Linked DNA regions of Homo sapiens: regions 1 and 2 are each linked to region 3. Evidence: fine-mapped expression QTL. A gene starts in region 3. Each other region holds a variant in brackets. All regions are shown on one strand. Distances are between the middles of the regions.

What was found. PIP is the estimated chance that this variant, and not a neighbour inherited with it, causes the effect.
Region 1: its variant is fine-mapped to the expression of UNC13C in prefrontal cortex (CommonMind, PIP 0.95).
Region 2: its variant is fine-mapped to the expression of UNC13C in thyroid (GTEx, PIP above 0.99).

The regions. Positions count from the first base shown.
Region 1 is chr15:54,012,661-54,020,850 of GRCh38, reverse strand. It overlaps UNC13C (unc-13 homolog C), which reads right to left. Exons shown (of 33, transcript NM_001080534.3): 2 at 4,965-8,190. The coding sequence starts at 7,947. Among named protein-coding and RNA genes, the nearest start is that of UNC13C, 38 kb to the right of the region's middle. The variant A/G (reference allele first, on the strand shown) is at 3,988.
Region 2 is chr15:53,820,148-53,828,337 of GRCh38, reverse strand. No RefSeq gene overlaps it. Among named protein-coding and RNA genes, the nearest start is that of WDR72, 65 kb to the right of the region's middle. RefSeq lists an enhancer at 5,913-6,082. The variant C/A (reference allele first, on the strand shown) is at 3,093.
Region 3 is chr15:53,974,304-53,982,493 of GRCh38, reverse strand. It overlaps UNC13C (unc-13 homolog C), which reads right to left and starts at 4,053. Exons shown (of 33, transcript NM_001080534.3): 1 at 3,567-4,053. It overlaps LOC124903495 (a long non-coding RNA gene), which reads left to right. Exons shown (of 2, transcript XR_007064646.1): 2 at 4,949-5,144.

The DNA of each region.
Region 1 (8,190 bases), 38 kb before region 3:
GCCCCAAGTTGTCAGATAAAATGTGGAAGGATAGGAATTTATTTGTAGGCAAAATTATGCACTAAATGGTTTCTACAGGAAAATCCCCTAGGACTTTTGATACAGATGATTTCTAAAATTTTAAATTCATACATACCTTTTAAGGAATACATCTTTATTGCTCTATTTTCATATGTAGATATTACTAAAGCCTTTTCACAAAATGTAATAATCTACTTAACTCTGAAAGGTTGACAAAACATCTTTTGTTTTTAAGTTAAGAAAAATCGGCCGGGTGTGGTGGTTCACGCCTGTAATCCCAACACTTTGGGAGGCCAAGGCAGGCAGATCACGAGGTCAGGAGTTCGAGACCAGCCTGGATAATATGGTGAAACTCCATCTCTAATTAAAAAAAAAAAAAAAAAAAAAATTAGCTGGGCGTGGTGGTGCATGCCTGTAGTCTCAGCTACTCGGGAGGCTGAGGCAGGAGAATCGCTTGAACCCAGGAGGAGGAGGTTGCAGTGAGCTGAGATCGTGCCACTGCACTCCAGTCTGGGTGACAGAATGAGACTTCATCTCAAAAAAAAAAAAAAGAAAAAAAGAAAAAAATTATTAATATTTTTCCTTAGACTGATTTTATCTCTTTCAAGTTTAAAAAGGGGGAAATTAAGAACGCCGTGTGAGCAGGTATATTTGCTACATAGCTTTTAGTAGTGCTCTTCAAATGTGTTCTGATGATCACATCCCTCAGAACCGTCAAGGGAGCATCTGAATAGCCAGACTGCATCCTCCTGACCTGGACTGTCCACAGGTGAGCTTTTTTACTTTTCATTTTAGATTTTGTTTTATTATGTTTTTAATTGTGTGTGTGGTTGTTGCTGTTGTTTTATTAAAGGGCATATATTACATCAGTAACTCGTGTAATTTAAAGGCATATGCCTGGCCCCGTTGTAGGACCACCAAGTCACAATAATCTGTGAAAATATGCTAATAATTGGTCATTTTAAAATAACATCCCAGGAACAACTACTACAAAAGCTTTCCAGATGATTCTAACAACCAGCCAGATTAGGAACCACTAGTCTAACAAAGTATCTACCTTAGGAAATTTTAATACCTTCAGTTTTATATCCTTACTTGGAAGTCAACATATTCTGACAGTTTTATAACCATTCAGAAAACAGAATATATACATGATGTAAAAACTAGGAAGTATGCTAATTTCCGATATCACAGTCTCTTTCAGAACAAGATTTTTGGTCTTCTGCTAGGAAAACTATTAATACTTCAAACTGACGTCAGGTTCTGATTTCAGGTAAAGTGTATCAGACTGCAAATACAACATCCTTCAAGCAGCTGTTATAGTACAGTATTTATTGCACTCTACAAATCTTGATTTATAAAATGAACCAGGGATTTGAAGTAGAAACACTGAGAATGAACTATTTCACATCAAAACCTGAGAGTCCCAGAAACTTAGTGCCTTTCATATTCATACTGGTTTCTCGTGAATATCTCTGAGTTGAACTAAACCTAGTGGCTGACTCTGTTCTTCATCTCTTATCAGTTTTTCCAACTTAAAACTTGAATAAAAACAACCTTTGAAGTGAATAAGCATACTGCTGCTCTAAATAGCCAAAGTAACAATCCATGTAATTCTGGATCCACCACTTATTAGCTGAATGACATTAAGCTAGGTAAGTTTTCAGCATCTGCTTCCTCACCTGTAAAATGGGATAATAATAAAATAAAATTAATAGTGGTGTTATAAGAAGTAAAAGAATGAAAAACAGGTAAACAGCCTGGAAAGGGCCTAATATATAGTAATTCTGAGTAATAAGCTTTTATGTCTATTCTTCTGAGTTCTCAGGAGATAAAGTCATAGTCTTAGCGATTAAAAGCCACAGTTTGAATTTGGATTTGACTTTAAAGTTTGTGTTTTTTTATTTAGTATCCCACCTCTCTTGATTCAGGCATTTATCCAACACATATTAACTCAATGCCATATGGGTATAAAACACTGGTCTAGGCACAGTACAAGTTAAAGGATTAAAAAAAAAGACAACTTGCCTCTAGACTATTCTGGAATAGAAAATGAGAAATGCACATAAATATGAGAGTCAGTGTGATAAGAGGCAAGTACATGGGAATTTTGAGGAGACAATAAATAGTTAATTCCAGTTGATAGGTGGTACAAGGCTGAAGGTGGGGGATCAGAGAGTCACCATCATGGTGTAGGAATCAAGACAGCTGCACAAATGGTGCCAACTCAGCAGGGGCCAGCAACAATGGAAGAATTTGACTCATGGGGAAGCTTCTGGCTACACACACTCTAAGGTCTCTTCCTACTGGAATGCTGTTTAAGGTGGAAAGTTCTCTGAAACATTATCATCAAATATCCACATCTATAAACATTGGAGTTTTCTGGTCCTCTGGATCCTGAAGACAACAGTTGAAATAAATAATTCAAATGTGTGAGCTTATAATTCCATAAAGCTGTGTCAGAGAGACAGCATCCCACAGTTTGACAGCAAGAGCTCTGCACTCCAATCTGGCTAAGGTTACTTATGGAGAAAAGACAGCACTGCTACCTCGTGATAACTACGTAGCCATGGAGAGAAAAAATATGTTGGCATCTTCCCAAAGCCCAGTAAGCAGATGGCCATGGGAACAGAAACCATCATGACAATTGGCACCTCTTTGGGATGCTCTGAGCAGGAAAGGGGCCTGGAAAATGTCCTTCTTTGGCTGTCCTTCCTTCAGAGGCATATGGGTGGCACAGGATGGGGAAAACTGCCTGACTGCTGCCAAGGGGAGCAGAGATAGCCTTTAAAATCTAGGCTACCGCAGCTTCCTGGGTAGTCAATCTGGTACCTTTCAGCAACCAGAGACCATCTTAAAGATGTGTGTGCTGATTTCCTCTAGGACAGATGATATCCAACAGATTCCATTCAAAGTTGGCTCACAGGATAATAAGAAGCCAAGCTCCAAGAGGATGGAGGGGTCTGAGTCCTCTATAGCCAGGCCTCATATGCAGGTAAATGGCACAGGATTGTTTTATCCGTGGTTTTATTCTTAACCAGGTGGCTATAGATAACCAAGAGCATGTGTGTATTCCAAGGTTAAGTGCCACTCACTGGATGACTAAGTTTGTTAGCTGGCTGAAGGGTCACCATCAGTAACAATCTGCTTTGCAGAGGCTTGCTAATTTGGAATTTTTAGAAGTTGAAGAAGATCCATTTTTCTGAAATGTATCATCTTGTCCTATTTATGATATTGCCTAACATTTCAAGCAACTACATTAACCAACTGCCATTAAAACATTTCTCTATTATGTCACAACAGATATATACAAACCACACACACACACACACACACACACACACATGCTCATGCACTTCTTAGTCTTCATTTGCCTTTGAGTAAACTCTGAATCAACAGCAAATAAAATACATTGTCAAACTGCTGGCCTGTATCCCAAGAAATAGCAAATGAATTTCAGTAACAAGGATATCCGACTCTCAAAAATCACTCCAATATAAGATAGATATTATTACCATATGCATTACATTTGCATAACATTTGACTACTTTTCACTCTTAAATCAGTTTTAAATATAGTTGAGAACTACCCATCCCTGCAAAAAAAACAAAAACACAAAATGTTGCAACAGCCAGTGCATTCAAGATCCCTTTGACTTATATCATTCCTAAATAAATTACATAAACTGTGTTGTTTTATAAAGATAGATTTTTAGAGTGGCAAACCCTAGTTATTTCAGTTGTCTTAGAAATTCAAATAGTTTAGCAGTAAAGATTTCTGATTATTCAATAATCTACTCACATCAACCACAAAATGGCTCATTTAGGGGAGTTTGATCACAGCTTTGGTCAAGACAGAGAAGATATAACCAGCTACTGGCTGCAGATATTATTATGTTATTTGATAATAGCAAGTAACACTTGGTCATATACACCTTTATGAAGTATTATGTAGAGTAATAGCTTA[A/G]TTAATGATGACAATCCCATGATCAGGGAACATAATAATAATATGCAATTCATTTAAATTTAGATAGTAACAGACTATTCCAAAAATGTAAGTAATTAGCATGCAACTAAAATAAATGGTAAGGGAGTGGAATAAGTGCGGAGGAAGTTGGGTTGAGAAATAGAAAGTAAACAAACTCTTACATTTACATATAACTATCACTTTCCAAAAGTATATAATCCAAAGTTGTTCCCACAAGAAAGCAATTAAAATAGTTAGTTAAGGTACTCTTCTCATTTCCATGGTGGAGAAGGGACTTTATTCTTAAGAAGGTAACCACTCAACTCTATCCCCTTACTGATCTCTTCTCAAAGAATAGCTTGTGACCACTCAGACATGACCTAGGGCCTTGGCTCTATTGCTCTCCCTGACTGTGCCAGTAGGTTGTAAGGGAGTCCATGGTCTTCCATGGGACTGTCCTGTGCACACACAACTTTTCCTATGGGCAACCCCTAAATTGTTGAATGGATAGGAAAATGAGTGGTTAAGTCTCAGAGTCCATCTTTTCACATTTTTTTTTAAGATTACACCTTTTTCTCCATCCCTGTAAACTTAATGGAACCAAGAAATAGATGCCAGGCTGTTGGCTTAACCTTTGGTTTCACTCAACTTTTGTTTGACAACTGATGCCACAAAGTTAGTTGATGTTAAATGGGGTTTGTGCCTAAATTTAGCAGAGAAATCTGATCCACAATGTGTTGGGTTAAGTTTGGGCTCATTCCAATATGACCCATTTAACATATTCTTTGATTTTAAATCATCAAGCCCAACTTCTTAGGAGAGCTGCCTGAGTAAAACAAAATGCTCCTCAGAGTAAAGCATGGAAAGTCATTGCAAGTAAACTCTTTCACCCAAGTAAACACAGAGCATGCTCTAAAGAAGTGCTACCCAATGTTAAAACACAATTAGCTCACAATGTAGCATTTAAACATGAATACCTCCAGCCAAGATCTTCTCTTCCAACTCTGCCATTTGCTTTTTATAGGCCCTTAAAGCTGCTTCTTTGAAAGAAGGACGAATTCTCTTTGGCTTTGTGATCTCCACTGGCTGTTCAGGAATGTTTTGGTTTTCATCTTCTCTTATTTCCATCTCAGCTGATGTTTCATTTAAGGGTTCTAACCCCTCTTCACTAACCATATCATCTGCTGGACCATCATAACCCTCATCTTGTGGGGTTTCATAAGGTGTTTCATATGAAAGGTGATCATATGCTTGCATTTGTTCATCTGTTTCAGTAATACTAGTCCTGTTTTCTAGTTTAGCAAGGACTTGTTCCATGACTTCAACATAATCTGTTTCATTGTCAGCCACTGGTTCAGTATAATCTTCCTCATCCTCTGCTTTATAGTAATAGGGCTCCGTGTAGACATCAGAGTCAAGTGTGGTACTTGACTCATTTGCAGTTGATTGAGATAATGTCCGAAATCTCCCCATTAATGAAGAGCCACTGTCCTCATACCCACTCAGACTCTGTGTGCTTTTGTTCCATACTACTTCCAAGGCTGATTTAGCCCTCTGCAGTGTAGATCCAAATTTTGGGAAGCTGAAAGTCTTATCAGAAAGGTCAATGCTTAATCGACTATGCCATGATTTGGGTGGGGCATCCTCTGAATCATCACTTTGCAATTCACTTTGACTTCGATACATCATGGACAACTGGTTTTGATTTTGGTATAGCTCATTAGAATTAGCTCCCTGATAAGAATCATATTGGCCAACCCACTGGCCTTGTGGTTCATTATCCAAGCCAGGGCATGGAGAAGAATTGTCATCTTGAGTTAAGTCGTAGCTCTCTGAGTCATCTTGAAGATCACTGTGGCACTTTCCCAAGTATTCTAGGTCTTTATTGTAAACATCAAGCTGTTGGTCAAAAAGACTGTTTGTTTCATAATCAAAACCTTCCTGGGTGGATGAATCCAAGCCTAAATCAGCTCCTTGATTCCATTCCTTCCATGGAGAAAGATCCTCATGTAAAGAGAGCTGAGAATCACTGTAATGACTCCGGTCTCCAGATGCACACACCATGCCATTACTCATTCCACTATCCACAGTTTCTGTGTTTTCAGTTTCAGTCTGCCCTTGGATACCCTGAACACCTCCATTCAAATGCTGGTCCTTGGGACTGTCATACAGGGTCGCTGTTCCTTCCTGTTTCCTCTGCCATAGCTCCCGGTCCGAAGATGACAGGAGAGAGCTTCCATTAGTTCTAGTGAAAAACTGATTTTCTGAAAAATCTTCTGAGTAAGACTGACACAATTTGGAAAAATCTGATTCAGAACGACTAAGTTTAGCAGTGAAAAAATCACTCTGTGAGTGCCAGAGAGGTGTTGCATCTGCATAATGGGTTGTGGTTTGCTTTTCCAAGATATCTGATTCTGGCAACTGTGAGGAGATTTTATCATAATCTGATTTATTTGAAATTCTGCTGCTATTAGCAGTTTTATTCTTGGATCTAGCACTGTGTGATTTTGAGCTTGGCTTGGAAGTACTTCCCTTTGTTAGAAGCTCTGACTTGGAAAGCACAGCGTAACTGTTTCTATTGAGGTCAGATTCAAGATCTTCATCACTGTCATCAGGTGACTGCCAATTGTTCTTCTTGATTTTTGGCTCTGGAGTAGACAACTTTATAGCCATGCTCTCATATGTCTGGGAGGATGGTATCCCTTTCTCTTTTCTTTCTCTGATGTCATGAGTTAGAATATCTGTTGAGATTCCAATGCCTGTTCCTTTGAGTTTATATGACTTTTTTAAGACAGAATCCCTTTGTTGAGGGGTTTCAAAGTACACAAGTATGGGTCGAGGCTTTGCATTTGGGCAGTCTCTCTGGTGTCCTATCCTCTGAGCAAATTCAATTTTAATAGCATTTGGTGCATCTGAAAAACCCATTTTATCTATTAGAATTTGGTACACCACGCTTTCAACATATTCAAATCTTTCTTCAGTCACATTTAAAAATCTCAGGCTTGCCTTGCTACCCATATGACCTAAGTGCTTAATATAATCATGGATGTCTCTAGTTTCCCTCCGAGACTGGACAAACCCTGTGCGCAACTGCTCAATTTCACTTTGTACAACCTCCACACTGCTGGAGATCTCATCGATGGAGTGCTTGAGAGCATTGACGTGCCCTCGTAGTTCAGAAAGTTCTGTTTCAATCTGACTTATTCCCTGAAGTTCCTTAAAGATCATTTCCATGACATCATGTGTTTGGCTAATGCAGCCAGAGGAACTGAACCCTGGCTCCAGGGCATTTGTCTTTGGGTTTCGGACAGTTCTGTCCAAAGACTTACTTCTTATTCCCCAGGATTTTTTCATGGTGCTTAACTCTGAGTCTGAGGAGACACATTCTTGACTCTTTTTCCATTTTCTCAGTTTTCGTAAAGCTCCCAGTTTTAAGCCATGTAGAGTACGCTCCCCGTCAGAGCTGCCCTCAGAGGGTGCAAGGCTGCTTGAACTCTTTCTGTTGCGTCTAACTGGCATTGTGTGTGTTGATTGTGCCTGGTTTTCTGTGCTACTCCTTAGTTCATTTAATGATTCTGAGTAGGAACTCTCGATTGAAGAGAGCTCTTGAAGCAGATCCTCATTATCACTGTTGGTTACTTTAGCATTCTTTTGTAGGCCATTGGCAATAGCTACTCGGTAACTGAATGTTGGTGAGAGGGAAAACTCTTTACTGGCCTCGTCTTCCTCAGTGGATAAGTTGTGAGTGGATGAACACTTTGCAATCTTCTTTACAGTGCTTTTAAAAGTGTAAGAAAATTTGGGGGATTTGGTCTGGCCAGCAGTGGGGAAGTCTTGATCCTTTTTCTGCTGACGATACTCTTTGTTTTTGTTTGTATTTCCCAATTTCTTTGTAAACATTCCTTTGCAAAGCTTATGAATGTAAGGTAAAATCAAGCTCTTGAAAAAATTAGCCACCATGGAGAGCAATTAGTGCAAGCTTTTCTGCCCCAGAAAAGTAAACAAGTATCAGGATGAAAACCTGAAAATCCAAGGCAAGCATCACTGTTCAGAAGTTCTGTGAATCACTGGAAAGAGCAGGAAGGGCAGGCATGGCTCTGCCACATTGTCGCTGTCCTGTGCAAACCAGAAGCAAAGCTCCATCTGTGAAAGACATTCTTTCCTGGAGGAGGGGTTTCATGAATCTCTCTCATTTCCACATAA
Region 2 (8,190 bases), 150 kb after region 3:
TAGATTGCCTCCATATCTGCAGTTCCTACAACATACCCAACTTGTGGTAAGCACTCACTAGGATCTGTGACATGAATAAATGAAGTCAGGTGAGTTGGTCACAGTGGAGCATTATGTAGGAGGTAAGTTTGGCTGAATGGGTAAGGTCAAATCATGAAAAAACTTGAATCATAGGATGAGTCTGGATACATACGACACATCGGAGTTTCTGAAGAACAGAGTTCAAGCCCCAGGACCTAGAAAAGTTCCTGACCCACAGCAGGCATTCATTACATGTTTCATGATCACATTATGTCAGATGTTAAACAAAATGGAGAAATTCCCTTTCTGTCCCACAGGAGAAAAAGGAGAATGCACTCACCCAGATTACAGAATTGACATTTTCTTTCTTTCTTTTTTTTTTTTTTCTTGAGATGGAGTCTTGCTCTGTTGCCCAGGCTGGAGTGCAGTGACACAATCTCAGCTCACTACAACCTCCACCTCCTGGGTTCAAGCAACTTCTGGCTAATTTTTGTATTTTTAGCAGATTCAGTGTTTCACCATGTTGGTCAGGCTGGTCTCGAACTCCTGACCTCAAGTGATCTGCCCACCTCGGCCTCCCAAAGTGCTAGGATTACAGGTGTGAGCCACCGTGCCCAGCCAGAATTGACATTTTCTGAATTATTCTTCCCTCCTACAGAATATAGCAGCCTTCTGATATTTCTAATCCACAAAATGTTAGAGCTTTCTTCTTGTTCAGCAGTCTTCTGGGAATTCCATTCTGGGTGAAACAAGATAGCAACTGATGACGAGGGAAAACGGGAGTTTCCCTAAGAGACACTGGCTTAAGTCACATAGCTATCACTGAGGCAGCCAGCATGAGGAACCCATTATAAGTGCCCTCAGAAGACACATTGTGAAAATGAATATCTAATTTCCCTTGGGACAAGCATCTAATTTTCTGTAACATTGTGCCTTCTCACAGATGAAAAGGGTTGCTCTCAGTTACTTGGATCAGTGTTCTCAGATGCTCTAGGAAAAGCACTTTAAATGGTTACTATGACCAGGACAAGATTTTTGAGCCAGTGTGTTGTCTGCATTTTTTTTGTGTGTGACTACAAAGAGTGTTTAGCAACGTTGTAGTTATAAAGAATAAGCATTATTACATGTTAATTTTAAAAGAAAGAAAATCAAGTTGCTATCTATGTACATACATATATTTTTATAACAAATGTGAAAAAATACATGAGGAAAAGCACACTAGGAAATCATCAGCTGGTAGTCTTAAATGATGCTAGCAATGCTTAGTGAATACTTAGTGAATACAGCCAGATGGATTACCTGAATTCTCATTTCATCTCACAACAACCTTATGGTATGGTTACTATTAACATGATCTCCACATTGCAAATAAAGGAACTAAGGCCCAGACAGGTAAAATAGCATTGCCAAGTACATGCTTTTAGTAAATGGCACAGGTGAAATTTGAATCTAGTCAATTAGATCCTAAAGTCTGTGCTCCAAACCATTGCACTGCCAATGGTATGGTATTTTATTCCTTCAACTTCCCCATCTTTGATATGTTTTACTTTTACAATAAAAAAAAAATTCTAGGATTATCCATATTTCTTGTTTGTCATGTAGAAAAATAAAATAGTATTAATGGGCTCATATACCAAGTTCGAAATAATATACAAAATATATCCTAAAGTTACCATGTATTTTACAAAACTCTATCTTGCATGAATAAATACCATACCCTATTTCTTGCTGAATCTGTTTTTTGAGAACAAACAAGTACATATGTTCTCATACAATGACCCGTACCTTAAAAAGGTAGCCTGCTGTGACCGTATCTGCAATCTGAATTGTAATTTTTAAAAGAATTAAGCTAAAAAAAGAAAACCACAGGTGCATAAAGTATCTGATTTGAAAAAAAAAATTAATGATGAAACCATCTTATCTTTTTAAAAATTATTACTCAATTATATTTAAATTTTAAAAAACTTTTCTGGAAAAAACATACTATTTAAAATTATACATTTTTAATGCTATAATTTTCTGAAAGTGATACTGACCCTGTAAGTAGAAAAAATTAAACAAAATGCCATGGTATCCATTGAAACTCTATAACTCTAAGTCTTTTTAGAAAAAAATCTGAAGAGAAAGGTATGTATTAAAATCTGTATCTGAAGTATACTCTAAGAATCAGTGACTGTGAGCCTCATTTTACCAAAGACCCACTTTAGATAGTAACACTCTCCTTCAACTCATTTTCAGCTCATTTAAGGTTTTTTCCCCCTCAGGTTCTGTTTGTTGTTGCCTGATGCTAACAATGTTTTCTTAAAGGTATAAAGGAAATGTTTTCTTCCAACATAATTTTCTGTGCACTGCAGGTCTTTTCTTTTGCCTTCTGGTAACTGACCTAACAGATTTTATCTTTTATTGAGTAATTCCTATGCCATTATTATTAAGTTTTGGTTTGTTTAGAAAAAACTTTGAGATTAAAATTATTTTTAATTAAGGTTATTACACCTGCGTATCTTTCTGTATGTGCTTTTAAAGTCCTTGTGACACTGAGTTACAGGGCTTTGATTCCTAGGTCTAAAAAGGACATCAAGTCCTGGTAAGTCTTAAACACTGACAGCAATGAAAGCCTCATCTTCAGGCTCAGTAGAAGATGCCAATCAAAATAAACTGTGTTCTTGACACACAGGACCAGAAATTAAAGCTATTCAACTCCTCGAGGCTCAGGGACTATTGCAGAAGAGGTGGGTGTGTGAGATTGTAAGGGCCAATTTTGAGAGAGAAAATAATTACATTTTCTCTATAAATTAACCATCAATGTCAAGCACACACTGATACAAGACCAGCATATGGGCCCCTGTGTCAGGTTAACAAGGTTTTCTTGAAGCATTAACTGACTCCTTAATAATGGTTATAAAAGTCTTACGGAAGCTATATCTTATGGTCAAAATTAAAATTTTATAGATTGTTTAGAAAAACAAATTTAATTGGCTTCATCCTGTTGTATTAGGGCTTAGTATTTGGAAAATTAAGTCTCCTCTCTCAAAGAATGAAGGTTTTCACTATTTTTAAAAAAAATCCTTGAG[C/A]TATCACTCCAGTTAAATGAATGACTTATCTGACAATGACCTGTGATCCTATGTTGTGATATCAAGTATTTTAACCTTTGATATTTGACAAACTTTCCAAAATCAAATTATAAATTATGTCTTTTTCTGACCTAATTAATCCTTTAAGATATTAGCTTCCCTAAAGTCCAAAAATGAGATATTTGGCTTATTTAGTATAAAAAGTGTACAGGAAGCATTGTCAAATATGAAATGGTGTTTGGTTTTCTTTCGGCTGTAGTCGTATAAATATGTTATTGGTATGTGTTCCAAAATTATGAATAACTCCTGTAATTCTGATATGACTTAGTGTACATTATCCATACTAATCATAATTGTTATGTTAAATTATTGTGTGCCACAGACGTAACAATTTCCTTGTCAATTGTGTCTTTGACAACGGCTGCCCTAAAACATCTTGTCATCTACAGACAGTTGTTTTGTTTTGGTCCACTTTAGAAGGTGGTTTTATAATCAGCTATAAAACTCTAACAGGTGCTATTGAATGCAGGTTTCTGACAAGTTTGGAGACTGTGATATCAGAATAGAGGAAAAATTTTCAGGACTCATGGAGAGCTGAAATGTTCATGAGTATCAAGGAATTAGCTGCATGGGCTGAACTAATAGAAGACAGAAGTGATTTTTAGACTTCTTGCTTAAAACATTGCTGATCCTTTGTTTTGTTTTTCAGAGTCAAGAAAACTTTTATTTTGAGCTATTGACAGCTTTTAACAATTAAGTATGCTCCTGAACAAAATGTGGAGCATATTTGTTTCTCTCTACCTTATTTCTCCAGAATTCAGAAACTATTTGTGAGTATTCTTAACTATGGCAATAGTTATTTGCATAAGTGCAATAAGAATCAGTTTTCATTTGTAACAGAACACAATTGGAGAAACTGCTTATTTTACCAAGGCTTTGACTGGAATGGTGTGATTTCCTTTAAGAAATTAAACTTGACCTATAGAGTTGCCAATAAAAGCCCCTTAGGAAAACTGGCTTCATACCTTGTCTACGCAGTTCCTGTCCCAGTTCCTGTCCTGTGGTAAGTAAAGAATGTCATTTTCTGACAGGCCCAGGAGCCCCAGGTTTTTTGGGGACCACAAGAGGAGTGGAATTCACCCAACTCGTAGATATTTGATGGTACAAATCCATGGCTGGGCTTGGTTTTACAGTAGTCTTATCTGAGATTCCCTCTATGGAACAAAGTTTCATCAAAGCCAATTTAAAAAGCCTATGTGGAAAAAATAATTATTCCTGCTGCACTTTATACAAATAATCTGGCCTAGTATAATAAAGCAAATTGGTCCTACCATGATTTGTCTTTAGTAAAAATGGGAAACTGGAGAGAGAAAAAAATATGTTTCAAAAACTACAGCATACTTGTTGTTACATTCTAGTTTTGCCTAATGTTTTTCAAATTTTATTATTTTCTACACTTTGGACTGAATTCTAATTTTTCCTGGCTATAAGTCTCCAAAATAATGCTTTCAATTTTTTTTTCTTTCTTTACCTTTTTTCCCCATTTTTCCTAGTTTGAAATCACTGGAAACTAAGCCATGCTTTCTTAAATCCTAGCAAACTGAAGCTAGACAACTTAAACTTCAGAAGAAAATAACAACTTATTTATATACATAAGCCGCTTTCATACCTGCCTATTGATATATGGACTTCAGAGCAATGTGGCTATATTAATTTTCTAGGATTGTTCTTTTTGTTGTTGTTGTTTTTCTCCCTTCCTCCCTCTGTTTTCTCTTCACAGGACATGAGACTTCACAAGCTGCTAAAAATGAGCTTTCCTAATAACCTAAAACCTACCCATCTAGGAATAAACTGTCCTAGCCATGAGAGACCAGACCAGAGACTCACTGTCTTCTAAAATGCTTCCTCCAAATATTTTTAAAAGAAAAGGGGGGAAATTTGATGGGAAAATAAATCTTGGGGCCCCCAAATCACTAAGCTAAAGGGAATAGTCAAGCTGGGAACTGCTTAGGGCAAACCTGCCTGCCATTCTATTCAAAGTCATCCCTCTGCTCACTAAGATAGATGCATATCTGATTGCTTCCTTTGGAAAGCCTAATCAGATACTTAAAAGAATGAAGCTATTTTTCTCTCACCTACCTGTGACCTGGAAGCTGCCTCCCTGCTTTGAGTTGTCCCACCTTTCTGGACAGAACCAATGTACATCTTACATATATTGATTGATGTCTCATGTCTCCTTAAAGTGTATAAAACCAAGCTGTGCCCCAACCACCTTGGACACATGTCATTAGGACCTCCTGAGGCTGTGTCATGGGTGCACATCCTCAACGTTGGCAAAATAAACTTTCTAAATTAACTGAGACCTGTCTCAGATATTCAGGGTTCACAAAGGAAAGCCATTTTTGGGGTGAGTTCTGGCAAAACAGCCAAGAGATATTACACACTACTTCTGTCCATGAGTTAGCCTGTGTCTCAATTGCATGTTTTGCATGATCTTTTTAAGTAAGGAGTCAAATAATTTTCTAAGTTTATTTTCTTCATGTCAATATTATATAAAAAAGAAGGTACACATATATTTAAGATAAGATGGAGGGGTTTTCTTTTTCTTAAATATTTATTCAGCATTGGAAAAGATACATCTCATTTATTGTTGCTAAAAGATGATTGGATACTATAAAATCATACTTGTTTATTTTACTAGGTGAAATTTTCCTGTTTGTCATTCAGTCACTTACCTACTCTTTTATTTATTCCCATGATTCATTTATTAGATTTCAATTAACAGATTTAAATGTAATAATCTATAGATGAAAAGAGTCAAGCTCTGTGATATGGTTTGGCTGTGTCCCCACCCAAATCTCATCTTCAGTTGTAGTTCCCATAATCCCTACATGTGGTGAAAGGAACCCAGTGGGAGATCATTGTATCATGGGGGCAGTTCCCCCATGCTATTCTCATGATAGTAAGTTCTCACGAGATCTGATGGTTTTATAAGGGCCTTCCTCCTTCAGTTGGGACTCATTCTCTTCCCTGCTGTCCTGTGAAGAGATGCTTTCCACCAAGATTGTAAGTTTGCTGAGGCTAACCAAGACATGTGGAATGGTGAGTCAATTAAACCTCTTTCCTTTATAAACTACCCAGTCTCAGGTATGTCTTCATAGCAGTATGAAAACTAACTAGTACAGTCTGTAAAATATTTGAAGAGATTTACTCTGAGCCAAATATGAGTGACCAATGGCCCATGACACAGCCCTCAGGCGATCCTGAGAACATGGACGCAAGGTGGTCAGGCTACACCTTGGCTTTATACATTTTAGGAAAACATAAGACTTCAATCAATACATGTAGGAGGTACATTGGTTTGGTCCGGAAAGGTGGTGGTGGGGTGGCTTCCAGGTCAGAGGTAGATTCAAATATTTTCTGATTGACAATTGGTTAAAAGAGTTAAGTATTGTCTAAAGATTTAAAATCAACAGAAAGAAATGTCAGGGTTAAGATAATGTGCTGTGTGGACCAAGGTTTTATTGCAGATGAAGCCTCCAGGTAGCAGGCTTCAGAGAATAGACTGTAAATGTTTCTTGCCAGACTCAGACAGTCTATCAGTCTTAAGGTCTGTGTTGATATTAATGCTGGTCAAGTGGGCCCGAATTCCAAAAGGGAGGAGAGTGTAATGAGGTATGTTCAACTCCTTCCTGTCACAGCCTGAACTAGTTTTCCAGGTTAACTTTGGAATGCCCTTGGCTGAGAAGAAGGGTCCATTTAGATGGTTGGGGGACTTAGAATTTTATTTTTGGTTTACAATCAAATGTTACAGATTCTTCTGTAAATAGTGTATTATTCATAAGCTCATACTTAATTCATTCTCTTATTGCTGCTGTTAATTTCTACAAAGTTGATTAAAGTCCTCTCTAATATCCATTGAAGTACAGGTGTAGAACAAAATGTTCCCAAATTACAATCCAGAAAGTTATGCTCTGAAATATAGAAGTAAAGTTTTGTTTAATTAGGTTGAATTCCACTCTCTCAGATGTTGATAAGAATGTGCTTGGTTTGTCAAATGCATAATTACAGATTTAATAGTTTTTGACTATGAAATAAAATTACATAGGTAACCACATACAAGAATTCTTAAGAATTCATCTCTTAAGATGAATTATTAAGCTTCTTAAGGCATATTTGGACAACCTATATAATTGACATTTGCCTATGCAAAAAATAATCCTAAAGCACACATTAGGGATGAAACTAATGCTGAACTCTGAACTCCATCTTATTCTAGCTATAAAAAAAGTTAATCTCTAGAAATATGGTCTAATAAAAAAAAGTCCCATCCATCTCACTAAGAGACAATATTACAAAATATTTTGCTTATTATCTTTAACAATTAATTGGATATCTTTAGAAGAAATATGACCTTTTTATTTTAAAATATTATTTTTTTAATGCCAGGAATTTTTCTCCAATATTTACTCTTAGTTGTCCATTTTAAATTTCTAGGTCATTTGAACAAAATGTGTTAAGAACATGCCAGTAAAGATTTTTAATATTATTCTAAGTCAATGGAAAGTCTTTAAAGTTTTATCATGAGATTACTGAATTAATGCAATTCATATTTTTTAAAAAATCATGATGACTGATATATGGGGAAAGAACAGGGGAAGAGGTTAAAGAGTGAAAGCAGACAGGCTGGTTGAAAGGAAACTGTAGTCTTTATAAGAAAGGATGGTGTTTTGGACTGGGGTGGTGGCTACAGAGATGAAAAAAGGGAGAGGATATAGCATATGTTTTAGAGGTAGAAACAACAGAATTTACTGATGGGTTTGTTATGGACCATGTAAGTCAATGACTCCTAGATTTTTGTTTCTGTTTTATTATATTTTGTTTTGTGTTTTGATTCAGCAATTGAATGTAATGGTGTCATTCATTCTATTAAGAAGCCTGGGGGAAGGGCAGATTGAGAGATAACAAGAGTCCTATTTCTACATATTAAATGTGAGTTGCTTATCAGACATTTAATTGAGGTTTCAAGTAGGCTATTGTATATACAAGTTTGAAACTAATAGAAGAGATCAGAGGTGTAGAAATTTAGATTCATCAA
Region 3 (8,190 bases):
CCCCCTTTCAGAAACGTGCTTCAGGGAATGTGCCTAAGCCATTAGTTCTTCCCACCTATAAAGGAAATAGCCACCCACTCTGTCCAATCACTGCTCTTTTTCTTTTATATTTTACATGCTTCGAGAAGCTACTTCTAGAGTAAATAATTTCAACTTATAAAACACATGAAGCAAAATATTTTCATGCAAAACACTTTTTCCCCATCAAAAAGACATATTGCACCCAGATTCTCAAGAACCAGAAGGCTCAGAAACAAAGTATGTTTTATCCTGAACGCAGGATTTGGGCCAACAAAAATTGGCTGTTGGGAGCAAAAGACAGGCTGAAGATGGGATTGTGAAAATGTAGGGAGACAAGAAAATATTTGAAAGGGAAGCCCATCTTTTATGATTACTTTTTAAAAATACTTCGAAATCTCTGAGTACAATTTATAATGTTGAGTTCCTATCTTTCTATCTAGCATTTATTTCTACAAAATATTTTCTTAACTGTTTACATAGGAAGAATAATATAAAACTCTCTTCCATATCAAGATTATAATTAATTTCTGTATGCTGAGACTAAAATATACAATATGACTAGGATATAAAAGAGATGGGAAACATTTATGCCTACTGCATCACAACCATTTTGACAAGAGATGGAGAAACGATTCAGTGTGTCTTATTGTCTACTTCTCCTCTGGGGGACTTTTGACCTAGAGGTTAGAATATTTATTCCTGTCTCCCTTCCTATGCCTTAAAAGACTACAAGTGAAACAAATACTGCTGTGGCATCCATTTTCTCTGTAGAGATTATAGAACCGGTGATCAGTCTTTTGCATTCTCAAAAGCTACAGATTGAGAGGGCTATTAATAAATCCTTTTTTTTAAGCTAGAAGAAAGTTGGAGCCTAGTGATCCAACCACAGACAACTTAAGATCCAGAAAGGATTTGTAATAACAACAGAAATACAAATTTGATACTTTGAATTTGCAATTTTTTGCTACAGTTATTCTAAATGCATATTACCAAATGAATTGATATTAGGTACAAACTATGACCTATTTAGAAAGTGGCTTTCTAGCTATAAAAGTGTATTTCAGAAACAAACTTGGCATGTATTTAAAACTCTTAAAATTTCTAGATGCAAAGCAGGATTGTTTTTCTTGGGTGACAAAATGATTCTAATGTCTTCAAAAATTCTAGAGAATGCCTTTCCGTAGTAAAGACTATGGGATGGAAAGAATGAATAACAGAAACATATATGTTGAAACTGGAAGACAACGTACAGGTGGCATAATACTTCAGAGAAGTTATGGCAGGGTTTATGCATTGCATTAGCTGAAAAGGTTAACAGAAATGAAAGTGCCTGGAGAATCGGGGAAAAGATATTATCATACCAAAAGTGTCTGATATTACAAAAAACAGAGGTTTGCCCTAAATCAGCAGACAACGAAGTACGTTCTCTTCTGCACTGACCTTCCTCCCAACCCCACCTAAGCCCCAACATACATTTGGTGTGTTTTGTCTTTAAAAGGGGAATCACTGCAATTATCCTGTGTTTCCAATGACCCATGGGCTCTTAAGCAACTAGTTCTGTGCACCACAAACTATATTGCTTCACATTTAAAGATTAGCAACCATAGCAAGTTATTATATGGCCTGGAAAGGAAAACAGTTTACTTTATTAACAATAAGCCCATGAAAAGTGATTTCTCTAGGCTTTGCTAACACTTTACCTCGTATTTCACCTGGGCATGAATTTACCTAGCACATAGTGATGATGATCTCTGGAAGGAGTTTCCAGATTTCTTTAATGGAGGTCTAACAACAAATTATTGAATGCTAGGAAATAAACCCTTACCTACTATCCACCTTCAAATTTTACTGAAAAAACATTGGCAATTCTACTGAAATTACTTTCTCAACAAAATTCCATTATAGTTTGAAAATACAATTTTGTAAATTAGAGTTTCAAATATTCTTTTAGATGATCCTTGATCAGTTTATTAGTTTAAAAAATTACTTAATGGATTCAGTAAAATTACTGCTATAGTGTTTCACCTACAGACATCATAAGCTTCTTTATACAAGATGTCAACATAGAAGAAACACACAATGTTTTTCACTCCCTACTAACAAACATAAACTTAATACTTTGCTCATTTTCTAAATCACTCCTCTGGTATCAAGAATTGCCTATACTTACCATATTTTGACATTGTTGTTGTTATAGTCATGCGTGGAATTTTAAAACAAATGATTTCCTCATTTTGTTTACGGCCTAAGTGCTCCAGATAGCTACCATTTGGCAAAAATGAGGTTTATAGTTTTCAAAGAGCAGGGTGGTGATTTACTTTACAGTATGCATAAATGACAATTTAAAGCCCACTTACCTCTATTGCATTTGAACTTTTTAATCATAAGAAAGTGGGAACAACAATAATTAAAAGCCAGGGTCCTAGAGCTTTGGCATTAACTCTGTGTTAACACTAAAAATCTATTAAATATTTTATATATACAAAAATGTAGTACTTTCTCATTCTCGTTTCTCCCCTCCAGAAAATCTCATTTAATATAGACATATGCACATTTAATTTATTGACAATTTAACCCACTTTTATGAAAAGTATTGATGAGCAAAAGGTGGTAAGATGATTTTCTAAAAATCATTAAGTTTTTTATTAATTTCAAAATTATATAAACTTACAATTTTAGCTTCTTAAAGAAATGCAGAGTATTTTAAAACTAATCTTTATAAGCATTACCCACCCTCAAACCTCTTTCCTGTTTTTCCTTAAAAGCCTAACGAGGAAAATTGATTTTTAAGTGTTGTCATCTCCGTCTAGGTACTAAAGACAGCCAACATTACTATTGTTGTATATCTGTCTTACTCTTGATGATACAAGTATATTGATGATGTAATTGCAGAAGTTAGGGTTTACTCATGCTGTTGGACCAAAGGGATTTTTTTAGACTGCCTCCTTGAGCACCACAGAACAGTTGTAAAACAGAACCAAGCACACAATTTAAGCAATTCATCTCTTGAAAGTAAATCTGCAGGATCTTCTTCTTGAAGAACTGATGAAGAGCTAGAAATAAAAAAATCATTGGTAAAGCTTCTTTTGCTTCAGACTGGATGCTGAGCTGGAAAAACACTTGGGTGACACACTAGTGTATGACATCTTGGCTTTTAACCCTTTCCTAGAAGCCCTCAACTTTTGTTCTCTGTTGAGCTCTATTTTTTTCTTCCAAAATTCCGAGGGGTTATGGAATATCCCAGCCTTTCATCTCAACCCTATTTGTCCCTATGTAGATATTCTCCTGAAAGTTGACTGGAAACTAAGCAGTCATTTATCATTCTGAATTCTTTTTTTAAAAGCAATGACTGAGAAGTCATGATGCTCCATAGAATCATGTACATTATAAAAACAGGAGAGCCGAGATTTTACAAATATATCTGCTACGCTAAGAGAACCCCATGGTTGTGATTTCCAAGTGCAAACAAAAAGAAGGGACAGGAAAATACAGACAGAAAATCGCATGCAGATGAAGCAGTGCGTGCAACGGAGGAAAGAACATACCTGAGGAATTCTCCTTTAAAAAAAAATGTGCACGCCAACTGGGTTGTTCTTCCCCTCCTTTTGGAGTGTATGTGTTTTCCTTTTAGGAACACCACTTGCAATTGTGTTTCTAGTCTCGTTTCCTTTTTTCAATCACAAATAGTTAGAACAGGAGTGGAAGCTGCGTCCCAGGGATCCGACTCGTGCAATCAGGCATGCCTTGGTCTGCAACGGTGTCTGTTCTTTTCTTGTCAATTCTATCGCACTCCCGGGTAGCCTCCGAAGCAATTCTACAACTTAGCTGCTGGCAAGAAACTGCCTTTCACTCTTCTCATTGCCAAATACCTTCCGCGGCTCATTTCTCATCTCTTTCTCCCAGAAAGCAAAATGGGATCTCTCCCGTGTGTTGAGGAGCGCCCAGGCTCATCAACATTTGAGGGTGAGGAGCAGCCGGGCTGAGTGCGTGCTGGGAACTTCACACATCGCCGGCTGCGGCTGAGTCTTTTCTGAATGCAGCACCGGCACTGCGATCCCCAGCCTCCTCCACCGAGAGCGCCCGGGCTCCCTCTCCTGCCGCCGTAGCACGGCGTAGCTCCGAGAGGGTGAGCTACAGCCCCTGCTCACAGGAGACGCACTGTAGCCACTGCCAGGTGTGGCCTTCACCACCGCACTGACAACTAACTGTGTGGGACACAGCTTCATCGCTGGGAGACGCCTGAATGCCAGAGCTTCCTCAGCCTATCTTCCCTTTATCGCTGGATGATGACCTAGGAGACAGTCATGGCCAATTCTGCCAGTGGAATAGCGTGGATAATACTAAATTACCCATGTTATTCAACAATGACTGTTTTAGATGTACTTGACTGTACTTGGAATTATGAAAGTATACCGCACACAGTATCATTCCCTATTAGCCACCAAATGCAGCTAACAGGACCCTGTATTTAAATAGAGGAGATACTGATATCCCATCCCAGTTGGTTTTTCCTCTTATTTTTGTGGAAAACCATTTGAAGGTGATTCCTGAACAATTTCAATTAATGACACATGCATAAATCAAAGTGGGAAATGATGGGTAACTTACAGTGATGCAAAGGTTTTTCTTCTCACTTAGGAATAATGTCTTTTCATTTGATGTTAACATTTTAAAGATCTGGCTGGGAATTGAATGGACTTGCTTTCTCTTTTAGTTTTGCTGAGTAGAGGAGGTGGGGGGAGTAACAGTTCCCACTTTCCATCAATAAAGCATTTTCAATCCTCTAATCCTCCTGTTGAAACAAATAAAAAAGTACTGAATCTTAAAATACAGCCTTAAAGCAGCTTGAGGCCTGAAATAATTTGGAGGTTTTAAGCTACATCTGCTCTACTGCTTACTTAAAATTTTACTTTTCTTTGCTTTTTAGAAAATGGAAGGATATTTCCAGGACTGAAGAACGTCAACTAGCAGCTGTGGTTAAACAGTATAGGAAGCATATATACAGATTTGTATGGCATTTTTCAGTACATGGAGGGATGAATATGTCTTGACTGACATTAGAATTGACTCCACCTAAATATTCAATAATAATAGTTGCCATCAAAATAAACAGTTAAACCGGATATAGCATTTTGTGGCAAAACTTGTGGCAAAACATTTCACCTACCGTATGTGACAACCAATAAATAACCTCTCCATGATGTTTAAAAAAGTGTCCCCAAATGTGACACAATATATATGTTGGGTACTAGCAGCTGAGCCCTCCCCATTCCCAGCTATCAGCCCCACCTTTAATTCAGAGCAGCACAGCTTCCCTTACCCGCTGCTTAAGTGACTGTTAATGGACCTGAGCAGCTGCTCAAGGTCTAATGATCTGCATCAGGGGCAAGTACCAGGGCAGTCTTATTCCTGCCTTCACTCATCACGGGAGTGGCAGGCAGGACAAAGCTCTGCTGCCCCCGGCTGTAACACTGGAGAGTAGCACAGGAAAACCGGTTAGACCTAGAAGCACCTGATAGGGCGAAACTTGACTTTTTTATACAGAAAAACTCATGCTAGCCAATACACTATTTTGAAGAACGTGTTTTAATACATAGAGAAAAGAACACCTATTCACTGAATCTGTTTTCACTTTTTGGTGTGAAATAACCACTGCAAAGTACAGAAGCTGTGGTCAGCTGAGAGACCCTAGCACCCAGAATAAGGTAAATGTGCATACGTCTTCAGTAAATTTGGATTTAATGTCAGTGATGTAAATGTTTAAACCTACAGAAGGAAATAAATGAAAGATGATTCTAACCATGAGCGGTCTATAAAACATGTATGTAGGAAAATTAGCCAGACTTGGTGGCGGGTGCCTGTAATCCCAGCTACTCAGGAGGCTGAGGCAGTAGAATCACTTGAACCTGGAAGGCGGAGGTTGTAGTGAGCCAAGATCGCGCCATTGCACTCCAGCCTGGGCGACAGAGCAAGACTGAAAAAAAAAAAAAAAAAAGAGAGAGAGAGAGAGAGAGAAAGAAGAAAAAAAAACACCATGTATGTAGTGCCATGAAAAGTTTGAAAATATTGCTCTAATTCAAATATTCTCGTAGAGGAAATGAATCACACCAGGGGTGGTAATCATTAGTTTTTATTGGAAAGAAGAAATAATGTTTCATGAATGCTTCGATGCCAGCATGTGTGTTTTAATGAATGCAGTGCTAAGCTCTAATAATCAGGATTCTGGTCATATATTTCAAAATGGAAATTGTTTACATCTCTGAAAGTGGCAGGAAACATGTATGTGAGGGACTCTGGCTGCTAATAAAATATGTTGCCGTTAGAGTGACAGAGCTTTATGACTTTATTGACCTGCAGGGACATCAAAATCCCTAGTAGAAATGTTTTGGCTTTTGACGAGTAGTTTTCACTACTGAGTACCTGATTTGAATAATGTGTAATTACAACGATGAGATTTCAACAGTAAGAGCCACATTCTTATCAGTAAGATGCATTCTGTTTCTACGGAGCTTTTCAAAGTCTTGAATTAATAACATTAAACAACACAGGATAAGAAGTAATTTCTATTTATACACTCACCCCATCCATAGGTACATGCCTCAAAACTTATAGATGGTTGGATTAAATAATAAGATCATTTCTCCTCCAAATGCTTCAGCAGTCATTTCAGAAAGAATAAAACCTCTAGGGTACCATTCACCTCTCATACCCCAAGACATAAGCTGAGCCAGATCATTTGTCTCATTTATGGTTCAGGTGGAAGAAAAGCAAGGAACCTGGGTCACTGCTTATTTTTTAGTACAGTAGTAGTGAAGCTTGACTAAACCAAAAGAATCAAGTAAAGGGGTCATTCTTGTAGAATTGTGTCATGGCCTGTATATCTGGCTTTAAGCAATAGAGGAATCCTTGAAAAAGCATAAACCAATCCTGTGTGCATGGAATTGTGTTTTCAGTGTTTTAGAAAACCTCGATCTTTATTTTAGGGAATTGGTAACCAACCATTGAACCTCACTATTATATTTTTTAAAAAACAATACTCTGACCAATCATTGGCTCTCTGTTTCCATGCAAATGGATTGGCAAAATGGATTAGTTGTCCAGATAATTACGGAGAAAAATATGATTATGTTTAAAACAGCAAGTTGGCATTTCTAGCTCTATATAAGTAAATAATGTATAGGAGAACGACTATTTGGAAATAAACCATCTTATGCAATTTGGAAAGATGTGCCTAGCATAGATTACATGGTAGTAAAACACACGTTAAGTTCTGTTCTTAAATTAAAGCTTTCCATTAAAGTATGGGTCACTTTAAAATGGCACTTTTGAGTAGAATTGACAGTATGTAACTTTAGAGACTAGGCCACATAAGGTACTGCCACTTCCTGTTTGCCCACTCTGGTTTGCTCACTCTGGAGGAAGTTAGTTGCCATGTCATGAGGATACTCAAGCAGCCTAGGGGGAAGTCCACGTGGCAAGGAACTAAGGACTCCTGCCAACAGCCAGACACAAACTGTGACCTCCTGCCAACAGGCATGCGAATGAGCCATTTTAGAAGCTGACCCTCTAACCATGTTCAAGCTTTCAAATGACTGCAACCACTGCTGACATGCTAAATGCAACCACATGAGAAACCCTGAGGCAGAAAAACCCAGGTAAGCTATTCTCGAATTTCTGGCCCACAGGAACTGTGAGATAATAAATGTTCATTGTTTAAATGAAAAAAAAAAAAAAGTGCTTTTGACTTTTCCAACTGAGGAATGAGATTATTTTTCAACTGTGGGATTTAAATGCATCTAAGTGATTTAAGAAGTAAAATTTTAGGCTCAACAAATTCTGTCACAAGATATGGATGCTGTACTTCTCCAGTCAGTATTGGCAGTGCCTTCTAAGCGCTTTCATAAATCTCTGTTGTGGCACTGATTTATTATACAGTATGCTAACTACTATTTTACTCATCTGCCTGATTTTCCTTGCTGGACTGCGAGCTCCTTGAGGGCAGAGACCATGGTTCATTCATTTTTATATCACCAATGCCCAGCTGAAGGCTAGACTCATAAAAGGTAGGTTGATGAGTGAGTGAATAATAGTGTGCTTGCTTAGTAAAGCACAGAGTTAATGAGGCTAAGGACACGGGTTGAGTCCCTGTGTAGCCAATTAGCTTTGTTC